Linked DNA regions of Homo sapiens. The protein of the gene in region 1 purifies or fractionates together with the protein of each later gene. This does not show direct contact. Each region holds a gene or a part of one and is shown in the gene's direction. Other genes may lie near its edges.

What was found.
Region 2: the proteins of YY1AP1 (region 1) and B3GALNT2 purify together in Homo sapiens (affinity purification with mass spectrometry; 2 studies listed by BioGRID and IntAct, with this or other methods). This does not show direct contact.
Region 3: the proteins of YY1AP1 (region 1) and ZNF496 purify together in Homo sapiens (affinity purification with mass spectrometry; 2 studies listed by BioGRID and IntAct, with this or other methods). This does not show direct contact.

Annotation. Positions count from the first base shown.
Region 1 is NC_000001.11:155,678,621-155,682,274, reverse strand, and holds part of YY1AP1 (YY1-associated protein 1), read left to right. Parts: intron 1-1,818; coding exon of another isoform or gene 1,819-1,838; coding exon 1,839-1,859; intron 1,860-2,266; exon of another isoform or gene 2,267-2,347; intron 2,348-2,445; exon of another isoform or gene 2,446-2,762; coding exon 2,763-2,866; intron 2,867-2,961; exon of another isoform or gene 2,962-3,167; intron 3,168-3,654. UniProt on the Homo sapiens protein: Associates with the INO80 chromatin remodeling complex, which is responsible for transcriptional regulation, DNA repair, and replication. Enhances transcription activation by YY1. Plays a role in cell cycle regulation.
Region 2 is NC_000001.11:235,446,544-235,449,579, reverse strand, and holds the end of B3GALNT2 (UDP-GalNAc:beta-1,3-N-acetylgalactosaminyltransferase 2), read left to right. Parts: 3' UTR 1-817; coding exon of another isoform or gene 818-910; 3' UTR 911-1,139; coding exon of another isoform or gene 1,140-1,231; 3' UTR 1,232-2,390; downstream 2,391-3,036. Other genes in the region: TBCE (tubulin-specific chaperone E), read right to left, coding at 818-910, 1,140-1,231. UniProt on the Homo sapiens protein: Beta-1,3-N-acetylgalactosaminyltransferase that synthesizes a unique carbohydrate structure, GalNAc-beta-1-3GlcNAc, on N- and O-glycans. Has no galactose nor galactosaminyl transferase activity toward any acceptor substrate.
Region 3 is NC_000001.11:247,300,864-247,304,517, reverse strand, and holds part of ZNF496 (zinc finger protein 496), read left to right. Parts: intron 1-3,241; coding exon 3,242-3,654. UniProt on the Homo sapiens protein: DNA-binding transcription factor that can both act as an activator and a repressor.

The DNA of each region.
Region 1 (3,654 bases):
ACATAAGGTAAAACAAATGAATAAAAATTAAAAAAAAATGAGATAGCCAAAGATTTGAAGCTCTTTACCCATTAACATGATAATCATTTCGACTTTGAATATTTGTAGAACAAGAGTCAGAACTCAGAACAAAGATCTCTGAGGAAATAAAAAAAAATCAAGCTGCCTCCTAATTTCTCATTTAGTCTGTCATTGGGCATTGTCAAACTGTCAAACTATATTTAGAGATTCTGGTTTTCATCTGGAGACTTAGTGAGTTGTGTAATATCTTGAATACACATATAAGATCTTGCCAGGTGGGGTGGCTCATGTCTGTAATCCCAGCACTTTGGGAGGATGAGGTGGGAGGATCGCTGGAGCCCAGGAGTTCAAGACCAGCCTGGGCAACATAGCAAGTCCCTGGCTCTATTTAAAAAAAAAAAAAAAAAAAAATCCTCAATGTAGAACTTTAAATTTATCCTTACGTGTTACATCCAGTTGATTTGAGAAAATATGATTCTGAATTTTCCATCAATTGGATTGGCAGTCCCTTTCAGCTTTACAGCTTTACATCATCTACAGATTTGTTAAGTATGTTCTCTTGGTCTTCTAATTCACTGATGGAGTTTTTGAATAGGTCGGGTCCAAAGATAGAGTCCTATGAAACACTGTTGGAAACTTGTCTCTGTCTGTCTCTTTTTTTTTTGGAGACAGTGTCTTGCTCTGTCGTTCAGGCTGGAATGCAGTGGGACGGTCTCAGCTCACTACAGCCTCTGCTTCTTGGACTCAAAGAGATTCTCTCACCTCAGCCTCTCAAGTATATGGGACTATATGCATGTGCGACCAAGCCCAGATAAATTTTTTTTTAGAGATATGTTGACATTTTGCCCAGGTTGGGAGACTTGTCTCTTGATTCCATTCAGTATTGTGTGGGTTTGGATAGGCCATCTAATTATAAAATCATTGGGCTGGTCATGGTGGCTCATGCCTGTAATCCCAGCACTTTGGGAGGCTGAGGTGGGCGGATCACCTGAGGTCAGGAGTTTGAGACCAGCCTGACCAATATGGAGAAACCCCATCTCTACTAAAAACACAAAATTAGCTGGGCGTGGTGGTGCATGCCTGTAATCCCAGCTACTTGGGAGGCTGAGGCAGGAGAATAGCTTGAACCTGGGAGGCGGAGGTTGCAGTGAGCCAAAATCGTGTCATCGCACTCCAGCCTGGGCAACAAGAGCGAAACTCCGTCTCAAAAAAAAAAAAAAATCATCTAGCTCACATTTTCTCCTTGTCTTCTTCCTATTAGAATTTAAGTTCAATGAGATTAGAACTCTCTCTCTCTCTCATTCTCTCATATATCCCAAGCATCTAAAACAGGGATTGAAACATAGTAAGTACTCAATAAATGTTTTTGAATAAATGAATGAAGGATAGCTGGGCGTGGTGGCTCATGCCTGTAACCCCAGCACTTTGGGAAGCCAAGGTGGGTGGATCACTGGAGCTCAGGAGTTCAAGACCAGCTTGGGCAACATGGGGAAAACCCATCTCTACAAAATATGGAAGAATTAGCCGGGCATGACAGCACACTCCTGTTGCCCCAGCTACTTGGAGGGCTGAAGTGGGAGGATCGCTTGAGCCTGGGAAGCAGAGATTGCAGTGAGCCGAGATCAAGCCACTGCCCTCCAGCCCGGGTGACAGAGTGAGACCCTGTCTCAGGAATAAGGATAGATATGAAGAATTCGTCAGATGCCTTGTTGAAAACATCATACATTGTCTACATGGAATTCCTCCATATTGTAAAATGAATCTAATTTATACCAACAACGTTTGGCTTTTTTGCAGAAAAGGAAGCAAATGAGCTGATGGAAGATCTGTTTGAAACTGTGAGTAATGATCCTCAAGTGAGAACATGGGATTGTAAGTTGGTTCTCCAACAAAATGTGTCCTTTGATCTCTGTGATGCTCCTTCTAGAAGAGGGACTGAACCAATTCTCCTTTTAGTCTACCTGGGAAAGAATATAATGACAAAAGAAATTTGCTAACTGCTAGACTCTTGATTATCCACATGTAGGTTATTCTTACTAAAATTTTCCTTGAAGCTTTTTTTTTTTTTTTTTGAGGCAAAGTCTTGCTCTGTCACCCAGGCTCTGGAGAATACAGTGGTGAAATCTCAGCTCACAGCAGCCTCGACCTCCAGGGCTCAAAACAATTCTCTCATCTAAGCCTCCTGAGTAGCTGGGACTACAGGCACACACCTACAGGCCCGGCTAATTATTTTATTTTTTTGTAGAGACAGGGTCTTGCCATGTTCTGGAACTCATAGGCTCAAGTAATCTTCCTGCCTCAACCTCCCAAAGTGCTGGAATTACAGGTGTGAGCCAGCACATCTTGCCCCTTGAAAACTTTTGATGGCTTCCCCTACTGTCATTTGGTGTGTCCTTAAAGATTGCCAACTAGTTTTAAAGTATTTTGCACACAAATAATTACCTTTTCCATAAATTTGTCTAAAAAGATATTTCTGTTTAAGAAATTGATCATTTTGAGTTATCCTAGCTCTGTGCTTACTGATACAAGTTGACTGGTTGAGCAACTTCTTTCCTGGCATAATAGTCATTCCATATGTGGGTTTGTAGGAGTCCTGAAGTGAGAAAGGTTCTGATGTAGGCTCTTTCTGGGTGCCAGCATTATTAAAGTATTGTTTATAGTTTTCACTTTTCCTTCCCAACACTGGAGCAACATTCAAAAGCCCATTCCCCAGGAAAACCCTCCCTTTCCTTTGCCCACAGTTCCAAGATGAGATGGGATTCTCCAACATGGAAGATGATGGCCCAGAAGAGGAGGAGCGTGTGGCTGAGCCTCAAGCTAACTTTAACACCCCTCAAGCTCTACGGTAGGCTAGTTGAAGACCTTGAGATTTGGAATAGAGGAAGAGTTTATTTCTGAAAAGGTTTTCAGAAGTTGCAGTTAACAATTTTTCATCCCCAGCCAGCTTCTGTTACTGATGTAAGGATGCAGAGTCCTGTCAGGAGTTAGGTGTCAAGTGAAGTCTCCTTGTTATGGGGCAGTGCAGCTGTAGGCCAAGCTGTATCTGTTTGGGAAGGGAGAAAAAACAGTAGCTGGCATCCATATCCACTTCTCCGGGTGAGTGGTGCTGGAGAGGTATGTAGGACTCAATGTGGCCAGCCACACAAACTACCCTATATTGTAATATCCAGTCTGTCCCTTTTGTTCTTTTTATGTGCCATTAATATCTGCTAAATGTGACTGAAAATTTGTTAGTCACCTAGGCATTAGTGGAGCAAACCCTGAAGCACCTGCAGTAAGGAGTCTGAAACATACGTGCTGACCTTTTTGCCTAAAGTTGGCACTTGTGTTACAGCATCCAGAAAGTAGAGGCTTTAATTTTTTCCTCATTTTGTGGTGGATTTGCATCTGCACTTTATTCTGTTGTAGCAGCATATAATCATTAGGTCGATGGCGAGAGGTCAGGATGCAGTTTGTGCCATAAGTGGAACAAAGCAAAGAGAATAGTCCCTGTAATTAGTCCTGTGTTTGAACTTAACAGCACTACTAAGCAGAGAGCTTGGGTTCCATCTGAAAGCTAGACCTTTAGGGATTTTCCAATTTAGTGAAAAAAGATAAGATAGGCCAACCAATGTCTTAAAAACTAGAACTACT
Region 2 (3,036 bases), about 80 Mb from region 1:
TATGGTAGACTAATACCCAAATTTTCTTTCTGCCATCTAACATAAATCCTGAAGGTCACAGTTTAGTACTCATAGTTTTTAAATGCTAAAGTTGTGTGAGTATGAATAAAAGCAAATACCTCTCAGGGTTTTAGTGCCATCGGGAAGGATATTTCTAAATTTTGTTGACATTTTGAAAGAATTAGTTTTGCTTTCCTCCTATCATTGCCTAATGTTTACCTAATATGAGTACATTTCAATCAAAGCTGGTTATCACAGAAGAAGATATACTCAGCTTAGGTATAATTGTAGGGAAAAGCATGTGATTAATTTAAGTACTCTTAGAAATAGTGCAACTGAGAAGACAGATAATAGCATATTGTTATACATAGTAGAGGATGTCTCCCCAAGTTTAAGGGACATTTCCCAAAATGACCAACCAAATCATTTCTAGTAACCCTTTAAAATAGTAGTTTCAATAGAGAATTCCATTAAAACTAGTCTTATGACAGATATTAACTGTGTTCAGATTTTATTAGGCTAGCTAGTTTCTTTCTATTTAATATTTAAATCTTATCATGAAATGCAGTGATGAGCTGTAAAAATAAATATGAAATAAGATCAGAAAATCATTAGTAGGTTCAAAGCCTTTATTATTGCTATTATGTATAAGCCTAGAAATGGTCACTTCCCAACAAAAAATACATCCCTTGTTATACTTAGGACAAGTTGTAAACCCCCTTTGTTTTGACAGTAGAATTGTTCCAGTGAATCATTTATTTCCGGTGAACCCCAGACACGATAAGCAGTGTGGTCTTTAAATTTTATTAGTTGGTTGTCACCATCGCACTAATAGACAATCTCCATTTTCCACAGAATAAAACTGTAATGACTTTAGGTCATTTTCCAGCTCGATTTCTCTGCCCGGCTTCTAAAATTAGAACGAAGGTGGGGAAGGATGTGATTAAGACAGATCCGATAAAGCATGCTACACATACTCTTCCCCCACCCCGTCCCCAGGCAGTAGCTTACCCTTAAAATCAAACAAACAGACCCATGGTCTCCATTTAGAATCAAACTGTTGCTATCTAGAGACAGTTTAATGTCATAATACGAGGACTAAGCTTGACTTTGACTTTGTATTTTGCTGGGCAACTTACTTTGGGACTTTCATAGGACAACAGAAGGTCTGACACAGGAACTTTGAGAAGACGTGACAGCAATCCCTTCACCTTTTGAATTGTCATGGAGCCTATCAAAAGACAAGAAAAGTCCATTCGTTCTCTCAAATGACAGTTACCTGTAAAACTAGCTCATGTGATGAGACCACAGTATCATTGCAATGATAGCTGTATCTGTCTTTTTTTTTTTTTTTTTTTTGAGACTGACTTACTTACTTACTTAAGTAAGTCTTGCTCTGTCGCCCAGGCTGGAGTGCAATGGTGTAATCTCGGCTCACTGCAACCTCCGCTTCCCGGGTTCAAACAATTCTCCTGCCTCAGCCTCCTGAGTAGCTGGTGCCCATCACCACACCCAGCTAACTTTTGTATTTTTAGTAGAGACGGGGTTTCACCATGTTGGCCAGGCTGGTCTTGAACTCCTGACCTCGTGATCCGCCCGCCCTGGCCCCCCAAAGTGCTGGGATTACAAGCATGAGCCCAGCGCCTGGCTGTATCTTTCATTTTACCCAAGTCACTTTACCCAAGTAAGTAATTAGGGGAAAGCCTGAGTCTTGTACCACCTGTTCATTTGGGGAACTGTGGGAAACGGAGCCAACGGACCTAAGTGCCCTTTGACAGTGAGTTTCATACCATTTCAGTAGTGTATTTCTTTCTTAATCTGAATAAACCAGAATGATACTCTCAGCACAGAAGAATAAAGGGAGCGAGTCATTAACGTTTTCTTTTTAAACCTTTATGATGACTTCCTTATGAATTACTGAACGAACACTGGAATGGGACTCAGGTATCCTGAGGACATCTCTCAACTCTGGCCTTAGTTCCCCCTCTGTAAAATTAGGGTGCCAACTAAATGATCTACAAGGTCCCTTCCAGCGCCGCCATTCTGTAATTACATCATGTGTAACTGTATTAAACATACACAAGTGACTGCCAGGCATGGGAATGTAACTTCCGAGTAAATGCTTTGGTTTGTTCAGAATACACTATGAACTTCTTTCCAAAGACGGGTTGTGGTAAATAGTGGATATTTTGATTATAAGAAATAGAGTTTCCTTGAAGCTTTAGCTGGAGATACAGCAATAGTGTGGTGTTCCTACAAATATCACAGTGTATTCAAACATATTTTTCTATCAAAAATCATTTTTGTAAAAGCTGTGTGTTTTTATCCAACTTGTGATAATAAATGTTCTTTATTTTAGAATAAAAACTGGCCTTTTTGTATGTATTGAATACAGTTAATAGAATTTATAATTTTAATTAACAATTTGCTCTTTCATGTGTGAATATGTGATAGTCTAGTCCTTTCAAAAGATTGAGACGGACTGGCTTTCATTGTTTGAAGGCTGGTGAGAGAAGGGGTTACCTGCTGCACACCAGTGGGGAGTGACATACTCCTAACACATGCCAGAAACAAAAAGTTTGGTCATAAAACAGTTCTAATAAGAAATCTGCCTGGCCTGCTCACACCTGTAACCCCAGCACTTTGGGAGGCAGAGGGATCAGAGCCCAGGAATTTGAGACCAGCCTGGGCAACATGAGGATACCCCATCTCTACAAAAAATAAAAAATTAGCCAAGCATAGCGATGTACGCCTCTAGTCCCAGCTACTTGGGAGGATCACTTGAGCCCAGGAGGTCAAGGCTACAGTGAGCCATGATCGCGCCACTGTACTCCATCCAGCCTGGGTAACAAAGTGAGAACCTGTCTCAAAAAAAAAAAAAAAACCTGCCTACTCATACCGGTTCTATAGAAGAAAGTAGCAATCTCTATGTAATAAATAGCATTACCATTTTTAATATAGTAACATGACTGTCTTAACATTCAGAAAATATGGAAATAGCTGATTATTTCTTTTTACCTGCCTATGACCAGTGTT
Region 3 (3,654 bases), about 92 Mb from region 1:
CACCTGTAATCCCAGCTACTCAGGAGGCTGAGGCAGGAGAATTGCTTGAACCCAGGAGGCAGAGGTTGCAGTGAGCCAAGATCATGCCATTGCACTCCAGCCTGGGCAGCAAGAGCGAAACCCCATCTCAAAAAAAAAAAAAAAAAATCTAGCAGGTCATTTCCATGGGATTTTAAGGCTCAGCAATAACCTCTGGCTCAGTTCTCTGTTCTCCAGGCCCAGCAGGCTACTGGCCCTGCTCTTTGGAACTCAGAAGGAAATGACTTCACCTCCTGAGCCTGTACTCTCTGGTCCCATGATGACAGTGGCAGTCCTGTAACCTCTGAGCCACCTTTGGAGTCATTCTTCCCTTTTCTTGAAGGATAGTACATATTCATAGCCAGATAGATCTATCGGCCAGTTTGTAGAATCCCAGAAGTCCTAGCCTTCTTTTATTTCATCCCATCTCTTTTCCTTTCAGTTCCAGCTGGCAGTGTTTCTGCTGGTATATAATACTCAGAAACCCTGCCCTCCATGCAGTCCACAGGGTTGCAGGCCGTCAGACGAGGGTGTCCTCCATAGACCTTCCTGGATAACCTCATCTCTGTTCCTGGCTTCTGTTGAGATGGTTGATTGGATCCGTGAATCATACCCAGAATCTCTTTAACAAATGATGAGCCAGCCACACTCTTGGTGTCTCTCCAGTGCACGCTTTCTTATTTTTTGCCGTATGGATAGACAGAATTTTCCAAATCTTGAAGTCATGGTTCCTTTTTGCTACAACAATTCCTTCTTCAGTTTATCTCTCTCATCTCACGTTTCACTATAAGCGGCAAAAAACTAGTCTTTGCCTTTGACACTTTGCTTCGATACCTCCTCAGCTCAGTATCCGAGTTCCTTACTTACAATTTCTGTTTCCACAGAACAGTTGAATATGGTTTGGCCAAATTCTTTGCCACTTTATAATTGGAGGATCTCCTTTTCTCCAATTTCCTATAACGTCCGTATTTCTACCAGCCACTTCCTCAAGGCTTTTTAAACATGCACTTCAGAACTCTCCTGGCCTCTCCCCATGACCTAGTTCTAAAATCACTTCGACAGTTTTTGGTCTTTGTTTTAGCTGCACCCTACTTCCTGGTGCCAAAGTCTATGTTAGTCTACTGTGGCTACCATAACAAGGTACCACAGGCTGGGTGACTTAAACAACAGAAACTTACTTTCTTACAATTCCAGAAGCAACAAGTCCAGAATCAAGGCTTCAGCAGAGCTGGTGTCTTCCAAGGCCTTTCTCGTCTTGGAGACGGCTCCCATCTTGCTGTGTCCTCACAGGGTCCTTCCCTCTGTTGAAGTCTGCCTCCAGTCTCCTCCTCTTAGAAGACCAGTGATTTTGGATTGGCCCCACCATCTGACTTCATTTTGACTTAATTACTTCTTGAAAGACCCTATCTCCAAGTAATCACATTCTGAGGCTCTATGGGTTAGGGCTTCATCATGTAAATTTTCAGGGGGACACAATTTCGCCCATAACATGCACTGTCTGCTCTCATAATTCCATCTCCTCGCCCAGTTAACAAGTAAGAGATCTTAGCGGTCCACCTTGTCACTTTGTTTTCTTCTTCCACCCAAGTCCATTAACAGAAGTCAACTGCTGATCAAGTACCTTGTCATCGGCAGCCTGGTAAAAGTTACACCTTGCTCTTGTCTCCACCCCATGAGGTCCACAAAGTACATCATACACATGACCTCACCTGCCCCACCAGCAGCTTAGAGCAACGGGCTGCCACTGTCATTCTCACCTTGTAGACGAGATGACCCAAGCTCAGAGAAGCTGTCTGGCTGGAACGAGGTTCCTGCAGCTCGAAAACCAAGAGTCGAGATAAGCGTCAAACATAGCCTCTCGGCGGGCGCAGTGGCTCACACCTGTAATCCCAGCACTTTGGGAGGCTGAGGCAGGTGGATCACCTGAGATGGGTGGCTCGCTTGAGCCCAGGAGTTTGAGACCAGCCTGGGCAACATAATGTGACCCCATCTGTACAAAAAATTAAAAACACATGCACACACACAAACACAATCTCTGTCTTCATCTGATGATTTCCCTCCTATACTACGTGGGTTCTTGGCAGACTCAGTACCCACTCCCAGACTCATGTTCCCCCGACCCCCTTGTGACTGAGGGACAAATGCCCCCTCCGCTTCCACCATTGCCCTTTATCTCTCTGCTCTCCATAGCCTCTGTGTCTTCCTGCCCTGCTTCTGTTTGTCCAACTTCTCCTGTCCTGAGCTGCTCTGACTAGCCAGGGCTCTCCTCCCCACAGTCATGAAGCCCAGACTAACCATGTTCCTACTCTTATCTGGGAGGGCCTGGTTCACTCCCCCCAAGTTCTAGATTTGAGTTCTACATTTCACAGCAGTGAGGAAACAGGCCACCTGTATGGTGGGCTCTGCTCCATAAGCCGGGACCTCAGGCCGGGCTCTGCACTGTCCACCCAGCCCCGCCCCGTGGTTCCACCTTCCCAACATCACAGACTCAGGATGCAGGAAGTCCAGAGCAGCTTTATCCATCACCACCTGTGGCCTCAGAAATGCGGTGCTACTGGGAGCCGGGGAGCTGTGGGGGACCCAGGACTCTGGGCAGTCTGGGACTGTTGAGCAGCCTAGCAAGGCTGAGTAGCATTTCAGCCCTCCTTCCTGGCACAGATCACCTTAGTTTATGTGTAAACATGGCAACCAATAGGTCATCGGGTTGCGTCCAGGAGCAAATAGGAATGTGCATGTCAAGTCTAGCACAGTCCCTGGAGCATGCAAGTGCCCAGCACATGATATGTGTAGGTTGTAGAGTCTTCCTCTCTCAAGTCCTTTCACTATCCTGATAGAGCTTTCCCCCATGCCTTGTTAAGTGCATGATCTGTAAATGGTCAAGGCTTTACCCAGATAAATACAGACTCCTAGAGCTTGGGGGGATGGGGTGGTCTCCGTGGGTAGAGAACAAAAGGGTTGGGGGTGGAGATAAGGGAAAATGGCTGGGAAGAGGGAGAGCAAGGTGCCCAGCATGCTCTGGACACAGCGGGGCCCATGCTGAAGATTTCTTCCTCACAGGCTACACCAGTGGCCCCTGCAGGGCTGGCCAGGCCGCCCCGGTCACCGAGGACCATTGTAAAAACACGGGTTTGTAAACTCCAAGCTGAGTGTTCCTCCGCCGCGGTCATAGGGGCTGGGATGTGGCCTGTGCAGCGTCGCTGACCTGCATGTTGCCTTCCTGTAGCTGGCGGCAACCCGCGATCTCTAGAGAACAGCCTGGATGAAGAAGTGACCATCGAGATCGTTCTCTCCAGCTCTGGGGACGAGGACTCCCAGCATGGCCCGTACTGCACAGAAGAGCTGGGGAGCCCCACAGAGAAGCAGCGCAGCCTCCCCGCCTCCCACCGGAGCAGCACCGAGGCCGGAGGCGAGGTGCAGACCTCCAAGAAGTCCTACGTGTGTCCGAACTGTGGGAAAATCTTCCGCTGGAGGGTCAACTTCATCCGGCATCTGCGGAGCCGCAGGGAGCAGGAGAAGCCGCACGAGTGCTCGGTGTGCGGGGAGCTGTTCAGCGACAGCGAGGACCTGGATGGGCACCTAGAGAGCCACGAGGCCCAGAAGCCTTACCGGTGTGGTGCCTGCGGGAAGAGCTTCCGC